Regions from separate parts of the Homo sapiens genome. Here region 1 is linked to region 2. The links come from fine-mapping of genetic effects on gene expression. A gene starts in region 2. The other region holds a variant in brackets. All regions are shown on one strand. Distances are between the middles of the regions.

The links. PIP is the estimated chance that this variant, and not a neighbour inherited with it, causes the effect.
Region 1: its variant is the best candidate, but not a certain one, in a credible set for the expression of LNPEP in whole blood (INTERVAL, PIP 0.85).

What each region holds. Positions count from the first base shown.
Region 1 is chr5:96,873,646-96,878,030 of GRCh38, forward strand. It overlaps ERAP2 (endoplasmic reticulum aminopeptidase 2), which reads left to right and starts at 2,855. Exons shown (of 19, transcript NM_022350.5): 1 at 2,855-2,882. It also overlaps a transcript of ERAP1 not described here. RefSeq lists enhancers at 2,494-2,623, 2,644-2,793, 2,964-3,173, 3,544-3,753. The variant C/T (reference allele first, on the strand shown) is at 1,765.
Region 2 is chr5:96,933,597-96,937,981 of GRCh38, forward strand. It overlaps LNPEP (leucyl and cystinyl aminopeptidase), which reads left to right and starts at 2,484. Exons shown (of 18, transcript NM_005575.3): 1 at 2,484-2,578. The coding sequence starts at 2,560. LOC124901030 reads right to left here and starts at 2,479. Exons shown (of 1, transcript XM_047417984.1): 1 at 495-2,479. The coding sequence starts at 2,479. The coding sequence ends at 1,775. It also overlaps a transcript of ERAP1 not described here. RefSeq lists enhancers at 688-897, 958-1,087, 1,398-1,537, 1,838-2,147 and silencers at 1,168-1,287, 1,728-1,797, 2,738-2,807, 2,938-3,017.

The sequences.
Region 1 (4,385 bases), 60 kb before region 2:
TGAAGCATGAAGCAAGTGTTGGGCAATCTAAGGAAAAACAAAAAACAAAAACAAAAACTAAAACACTGAAAATGCATTCACCCACTCAACTAACATTTGTTGAGGGTCTCTTATATGGCAGGCTCTGCTCTATACTGGGCACTCAGCAGTTAGAGGGCAGAGTTGCTACTGCAAAAAGCTTATGTTCTAGTGAGGAGACAAGAAAACAAACAAACAACTACATAATGAAGTATAAGGAACTGACCAAAGCTAAGAAGAAACAAAAAGCAGGCTGACAGGATAGGCCTTGGTGATGGTGGATTTAGGGAGGAGTGGTACTGCCTTAGAGCCAACAAGGAGGGTCTCTCTGAGTAAGAGACAATTCAGAGACCAGGATGAAATGGAAAACTGAGACATGAATTCCCTAAGCAATAAACTTCCCAAAGCTTATCCCAAAGAAAAGAGAAGAGAAAAGAAAAAAAAAAGAAGGAAGGAAAGAAAGAAAGAGAGAGAGAAAGAAAGAAAGAAAGAAAGAAAGAAAGAAAGAAAGAAAGAAAGAGAGAGAGAAAGAAGAAAGAAAAGAAAAGTTAGGAGCCCATTTTGCTGAGAAACTCTTTTAAATAAGCTACAAGTACTTGAATCTGGCTCAATTTTCACTTCTAGGATTCTGCAGCTCAATTCCATAGCCTGTTTCTTCATTCTCCATCACCACTTCTGTTCCAGTGGGCAGGAGAGAGCTCTGAAAACACACATGCACTCGCCCACATACCCACAGCTAGGCTGGATCTTGTGACAAGGAATATCACAGAAATACTCCCAGCCTCCTATACCTCTTCTACCTGCCCCCACGCCCTGCAGAGTTAGAGTCCGTAGATAAGCCCTTGGGGCCTCCTCTTCTTTGTCGTCTTTGTCCCCTTCTTTTTCCCACTCACTGGCTTCCAGCCATCCCCCTTCCTGTGGTGCCCCTCTCACTACATGAAATGCAGCTCTGAGGGACCCCATTCAGTCTTATGTTTCGGGCCTTAGGTGTAGGCTACTGCCTTCCTTTCTGCCCCTTCTACTTTATCGACTTGTTCTTTCAGGTTGAAATAATAAAATGTAGAAAGGTGGAAAAATTAAAGCTTGAGACTTAACTAGGATCTAATCATGGCAACATGTGCTATTGGGCCAAACATAGGTTGCAAACACAAACCACAGCAGGACAAGGCACATGATACAAGTCTATGAAGAGTGTCTGCAACATGATAAGAGCTAAGCTTGTTATATTTCACTTGACAATAGAAATTGTATGGATGTATTGCCATTTAATAGACTGTGATTCAAACAAAACAACTATAGGCTGGCATATAGGCTGCCAGTAGGCCACTATGGTTCCCACACTAGGACTTGCCCCTCTGTAAATGGGGAAATCAAGGAAAGATCTTGAGCAGTGGGGGAGGCATGGTCGAGCAGTAGTTGAAAGGATTAATCTGGTGGCATCGTACAAGTAACTGCAAGAAGCTGAGCTTGAGAAGCTGGGAAGACATGATTGAAGGCCATTGTGAGGAAGGATGAGGACCTGGACTACTTTAATAAGCGGTGGGATTTTTTCTTAGTTGGATAGAAAGAGATTGAAAATGATTCAAAAAGGCCAGTTGCGGTGTCTCATGCCTGTAATCCCAATCCTTTGGGAGGCTGAGGCAGAAGGATCACTTGAGCCTAGGAGTTTGAGACCAGCCTGAGCAACATGGGAAGACCTCATCTATAAAAAAAAAATAATAAATTAGCTGGGTGTAGTGGTGGATG[C/T]CTGTAGCCCCAGCTACTTGGGAGGCTGAGGTGGGAGGATCATTTGAGCTCAGGAAGTCAAGGCTGCAGTGAGCTGGGATGGCACCACTGCACTCCAACCTGGGTGACAGAGTGAGACCCTATCTCAAAAAAAAAAAAAAGAAAAGAAAAGGAAAAATCAACAGGCTTTGGTAACAAATTGGAGAGGGACAGAATCAAAGTAACTAACTATATGGTTCAATCCTAGATAATGGAAGAAGGCTGGAAGCATATAAAGCAAAGGGTGTTTATCTGGGGAAAGAAAACACTATTTGAGTTGTCAGGGTTCTGGTTCAGGTTAGGGTTAGACATCCATGTACTGTTGGTCCATCAGGCTGTTGGAATTACAGCAGCAGAACCCTTGAAGGAGGGATCACAATGGGAGCAATGTGGGATGAATGGGGATAAATGCTAAATCTGGGTACTGGAAAGGATAAAGAGAGGGCAGAGCAAAGGCCAGAGGTTTCATCTTTGTGGAAGGTCTGTATTCAGAGCAGAGAGGAAGTTGAAGCCCAACTCAAACAGGCAGATAAAGAGAGATCAAAGAGATGAGCATGAGATACAGTCCCCTCGTGCCCAAGGAGACAGGGTGGTTACAGACATGGAAAATCTGAGAATAATCACCTCTGATAAAGATCACAGAAGCTGCCCGGGAGGTGTTTGGTAAGCTTGGAGTTACGTTTGTGGGGTGGATGGGCAGAAGTCAGATTTCATAGCACTGAGGATGCAGCACAAGGAGAAGTTCAAGATCAATTCCTAAGACAACAACTTGGCACTAAAAAACATAAACTATGTTCTGAAGGCTTTACCCTGGGGACAAGGGAAGGGAGGTGATAACAGCAGAAGTGGCAGCCACTGGCGATCCTTTCTTTCCATGGTTTGGCTTCTACTCCAAAGCCACTTATTTGTGCATTCTACAAAAAGTTTCTTGTCCTTTTTGAAATAAAGCTCTTATCCTAAGCTCCATTCACACCTGCGTGATAATGAACCAGCTAGTACTTACTGTACTCAGGAAGCATGCAAAGTTCTGAATCTTAGAACAGAAAGTGAAAGCAAAAGTAAATTCCCCTTCAGTCAAATCTGCAGCAGCATGATTTAAGGTAACGTATCAACATTTCTCTTGGGTTTGTCTTAAAATTAGATTTTTTCAATAAGAATAATGAACTGAAGGTATAGAACTGCTGTGTTGAGAAGGTTTTGTAATCTAAGGCAAGGTTCTGGGGGACTGGGGTGAATTGGGCGCGGCTGTATTAGAAAGTGTATGCAGTTGAGGCTGGGACTTGATCTAAGACGCTGCTGCACTGACTCTCTTTCAGAGATCTTTTTGTCTTTTCTAAGCGTTTGTGACAATTCTTGCCTCTTCAATCCCAGGATGTTTTGTTCACTGCATTGCTATTTAAGGTACAGTGCAGTATAATAGAAAGCCCACCAGACCAAAGGGCAAAGAGCTATGTTTTAGTCCTGATTCTGTTTCAGACTTCCTGTGTGGATTTTGAGAAGTCACCATCCTGTTCCTTCATCTGTTTATTTAATTTAATTTATGTATTTATTTATTTATTTATTTTGAGAGAGAGCCTCGCTCTGTCGCCCAGGCTGGAGTGCAGCAGCACGATCTCGGCTCACTGCAACTTCCACCTCCCTGGTTCAAGCGATTCTCGTGCCTCAGCCTCCCGAGTAGCTAGGACTACGGGCATGTGCCACCATGCCCGGCTAATTTTTGTATTTTTAGTAGAGGTAGGGTTTCACCATGTTGGTGAGGCTGGTCTCGAATTCCTGACCTCAGGTGATCTGCCCACCTTGGCCTCCCAAAATGCTGGCATTACAGACCTGAGTCACTGTGCCCGGTCCTGTTTCTTTATCTGAACACTAAGGACTTGTACTAGCTGGCCTTTACAACCCTTACTAGTTCTAAAGTTAAAGACTGTGTGAGTAAAGCTTTTCTCTCTACTCTTATCAATCAAGTACATCTCTAGGAGTGTCTGCTACAAGTGGGGGCGAGCTACTCCTTCATTTTGGCCATTGAATGCAAGTTATAACCTCAATAATAATTTCATATCCAACACTAATTACTTACTTCCTATATGCTCCATGCTGTGCTGTGCCAACTTCTTCACATGAATTATTTCATTTAATCATCCCAGCATGAGGAAGGTATAATTATTACACTGTTTTATGGTTGAGATAAATGAAGCTCAAAAAGTAAAAAACTTTGCCCATGATCACGTAGGTGAGGTTGGTGGAATTAGCGTTGGAATCTGGGCACTCTGATTCCAAAGCCTCAGACCCACATAATAAGCCACTCCATTTTTTTTAAACCCTCCAAAATTCAAGCTAATAGACCAATTATGAGTGTACTTATCAGACGTTCTTGGAACACTGAGATTTGTAGCAGTAATTTAATGCTTGTTTTTAAAAAGAGGGAGAAGTATCTTTAATATTATTTTATTTTTGTTCCTTTAACAATACCTGTCACCTGCATTAATATTGCAAATTGAAAAATTGAAGTAATTGTTTGGATAATTAATGCTGCAGAACTTGTTAAGGATTATAAAAAGAAGAAGTAGCAGAGAAAACCTTCATGGTTTGAGTTGGAGCAGTAAGGA
Region 2 (4,385 bases):
ATGTAAAACAAAACACAAGGTAACATGTTTCACACTTAAAAGCATGATAGACTGTAGGTTACAGGTGAAGTGAGGTGAGGTGATTTAACAAGCTGCAGTGTTTTAAATATCTCCTATACTAAGTGGTTTGGTTGCAAAAGGAACTTCAAGGGAACATGACATGACCTAAAATATAGAGAAGAGCGTCTTATTTAAGCAATACAATGTGTGAAGTATGTTAACAAAATCTAGCTCTGCGTGTACTATATAATATCTGAACTGGGATACATCAGCTCCTGTGGTTCACTATTTTTGGTTCTAAAATGTCAGTACTAGGGGCCAGCCTAACGGTTCTGATTACCTTTCACACATTAGGGAGATAGCAGCTCTGAGGTATCATATGATACAGACACCTTCTCTGTACTGATCAAACACATCATTCAGTATGGAGTCATTAACTGGAAGGGTTTGCAGCAGTGGAAGTGAACTCTAAACACCACTATGTCCTTCACTTATTCATGCAAAAATTATTTATTGTATACTTACCCAGGCATTGGGGATACAGCCTTAAAAAAGATTACGACTCTGCCCTCACAAAGCTTGCATTCTTGAGAAGGGAGACTGATAATAAGCAACAAATCCAAAACATTGTTTCAGACAGTGATGAGTGCTGAGAAGGAAATAAAGCAAGGCCAAGTCTTTATAGAGTGTTTGTGGCTATTTTAGATGTATGGTCAGACAAGGGTTCTTTGCAGAGGTGACATTTGAGCCGAGACTTAAATGACAAGATGGAATCAGTAGGCAAAGCACTAAGCAGAAGAAACAGTTCTTGTGCGAGGAGCGAGCAAAAGGAATTATTAACAATGATGGATGGAACTTGGCGACTTCCGGGAACAGCATGAAGGCCTTTGTTACCAAAATATGGTGAGTATGTGCTGATGAGGTCCCAGAGTTAGGCAAGGAGTTTCATTTTTTATTCTAAGTGCAGTTGGTATCCACTGGAAGTTTCAAGTAGAGCGTGCGTTGTGAGGGATGTAATAACAACAGGCAGTTTAAAATACAATATTGTACTTCGATTTGACTTCTTCGAAACCTAGTTTCCAATTCCAGTGCTGGTCAAACAACACCCTGGCCGTCCCTGTTTGAGCAGGCTGTTTGCGCTTGCCGCGGCTTGTTTGTCCCTGGCGCCCCGCTGTTGAAAGCCTCAGAGCGTGTGACAGTTGGCAGGCGCAGTGAGGCGCAGCCCGAGCCAAGTCAATGCAGGGGCCGGGGCTGAGGGAGGGGAAGAGGCAGAGGAGGCGGTGATGGCGCGCTGGGAGGGCGGCGGCCTCTGCAGCGAGGGTGGTGGCGATGCGCATACCGAGAGGATAAGGAAGCGGTTCCCGACGAGCCTCCTCGGGGCTTATGGGGCCCCTGGCGGTTCGGCCTCGGAGGCTAGCGGGGCTGCCCGATTTGGCACTGGAAACAATGGTGGCTCGGGGCTGGAGGCAATGGCGCGAGTGCTGGGGGGCAGGGGCGACTAGGGGAGTTTCGGTTTCTCGGGCCTAGCGCCGCGGAGCCTTGCTGCGGGCCCCAGTGGTAGCACCCCCGGGAACCGCAGGTGTTGATTTAAGGCTCGGAACAGGCGGGCCTTCTGCCCACATCCTGCGGCGCCCGCGACCCGGGCCGGGCGATCCGGCGCCGGGTTTTGTTATCCGCCCGCACCTAGAGGCCGCAAGGCAGCCGCCAGCCCCGGGACTGGACCCCAGGGCGCCCTCGGCCCTGCGAGGTCCCCGCCCTCTCTTCCGTCTCCTCCTCACCGCCCTCCTGAGGCACTCTGATGCGGGCGGGCATCTCTGCCGAAAACACCTACAGCGCCCGCTCCCTCGGTCCTTCGAGCAGTGATCCCTCCGCGGCCAACCTCCCCAGGGAAACCAGCGATTCGCGGTTCAGATAGCGACCTTCGCCCGCAGGTTCCTGCTCTGCCTTCAGACTTCGGCTTCAGTGGCACCTGCTCAGCGAGGCCTCGTCTAACCAAGCCATCCGAATTAACTACCCACTCACTCGCCATCACATCACCCCGATTTAATTCGCAGCGGGGCACTGACTTTACACTCGTGTGTCTTCTGTGTTTATTTATGGTCTGTTTCTGGAATGTCCGCTCCTGGGACTGGGACCATGATTTTCTGGCGCAGTGCGGGTGTCTCGGCGTCCGGGATCGGGCGGGTCGCAGTAGGGCTCCACATTTGTTGAGTGACTGAACACCGTTCCCGGCCGGGGAGAGCGCCGCAGCCGGGTCCACTTCAGGTAGGGGCTGGGCTTTCCCGGCCCCGCCTAGGCCCCGCCCCCAGCGCGAACCCGCTCCCACCTCGCCTGTCCACGGAGCAGCAGGGGGTTTGACTGTGCTTTTCCCTCTTGCTTCCCTCGCTCTTTCTGCAGCTGCCACGAAAACCCGGAACGGCGGAGCGGCGCCGCCCCTCGCGGCACCTCCCTGGCAGCCCTTGGAGGCCGCGCTGGGCATGCTCAGTCAGCTGGGCCGCCTCAGCTCTCGGAGTAGGAAGCTCGGGCGCTCCGGCTGTAAGGAGCCGCGGCGGGGGGAAAATGGAGCCCTTCACCAATGGTGAGTGGGCTGCCGAGGCGCCGGGACCCGGGCTCTCCGGAGCCCTGAGGGTCGTGGGCAGTCGTGACACGCGGGGTCGGGCTGCAGCCGTCTCCCCCAACACCGCGGGCTTCCCACGAGGGCTGAGGGAGGCAGGGAGAGGGGATCTGGGGGAGGCAGGGAGGTTCGGGGGGCGGGCGGCGGCCAGTGCGGGACCCGGGGCTGGCTTGAAGGTCAGCGCCGCCGCCGCTCGCCCGGGGTGCGGCCGGTGGGCAAACAGCAAAGTTTGGGCTGCTGTGCGCAGAGGAGTGGGCAGTGGGAAAGTTGGCAGCTCAGGTTTGCCCCCGGAGGAGGCGGTGTCGGCCCGACTCTCCTGTAGGAGCGTTAAGTTGTGGCAGCTGCCGAGCCCAACTTTTGTGGGGCGCCAGGAGCTGTCCCCCTGCCCTTCAGTGAGCTGCCGGCGTGACTTTTCCTAATAGGGCGGGGTGGGGGTGGGAGGCTTGGCAGGTTAATGTTGTGGAAGGAAGGGAAACTTCAGGAAAGGCTTGCTCACCTCGCTCGGTGCCGCGGAGGTGCCTGGCCACAGTGCCACCCTCCTGACCCTGCCGAGGTACTCGGCAGGGCCACCACGCATCCCCTCACTGGCTGCAGATCACATCAGTTTTTCAGTCAAAGACTTGTTAATGTCAAGGGTCCGTCACGGTGGTGATACCACTGTGTGACAGGAAGCGAGAGTCAACGCAGGGAGCCTGCACCCTGCAAACAGCCACAGCCCTTCACTGAACGGGGAGCATAAATCCCACCCTAGTTAGAACCATGGCTTTTGTGCGGACCAGAAGTGCCAGAGCCACAATATAGGGGTGAGATGTCTTACCGTTTTGCGGTGTTGAGTGTGTGGATTCCCTTTTAAGATAGAAAGTAGGAAAACTGCCAGTAAGGGAGACGACTCACTAAAAGAGGATTCAGTCTCTGGTTGACATGTTTTGCTGAGTGTGGTTGGTTACTTCAGGTACAGTATCACATTAATAGGGGCCACAGTCTATATCCCTGTTTAGTTTGTTAGTTACCACTCAAGAGCAGACAGATATTGTCCACTTTATCCCAAATCCCAGCCAGACTTTGTTGTATGCTGTGCTTCATTCATGGGGCTGTGAACTACTGATTATATTCTCCCTATTCCTAATGTAGAATGCTTTATTCTACTGCCATCTTTCTGTCTGCACTGTTTAATTAGGCTTACTGATAACAACTTTAATTCTGAATTTTCTTTCTCATTCAGGTTCTATTTGTAATTACTAAGACTTAAAGAATAGTCTGGTGAAGTTACTCGAAGAATTAAGGAAGGTTTGAGCTAAAATGAACTAGAGACCATCTAGTACTTTAGTGTAAAATATGTTTAATACAAGTCGTTAAGTCCTTGTAAGTGACTATTCCAATGTTCATTCTTTGTTTTTGGAAGAATGCTTGGAGTTACCATGTTTTTAAATGTGAAATTTCATCTAAATTAAAAAAAAAATCTCTGTGATGAGGCTGACTCACCCATTTGGTCAAGATTAGTGCTAGCTGATTTGCTGAACCTTTGCCTACAGAATTAAAGTACTTTCTCAAGTTTTAAAATTGGTGTCTTTTCTCTTATAGAATATGCTTCTAGATTGCTTCTAGATGTGGGTATTTGCAAACTGTCACATTTGGGAGGACAATGGAAAAATCCCACAGAAGAGAACAAAAAAAGAAGCAATGCTTCAACTTTCATGTAGGAAATTGGATTTCTGATTCTTTCCTATCTTTCAGAGTTGATGCTGGAGACAGCTTGGCAGTGCATAATTTT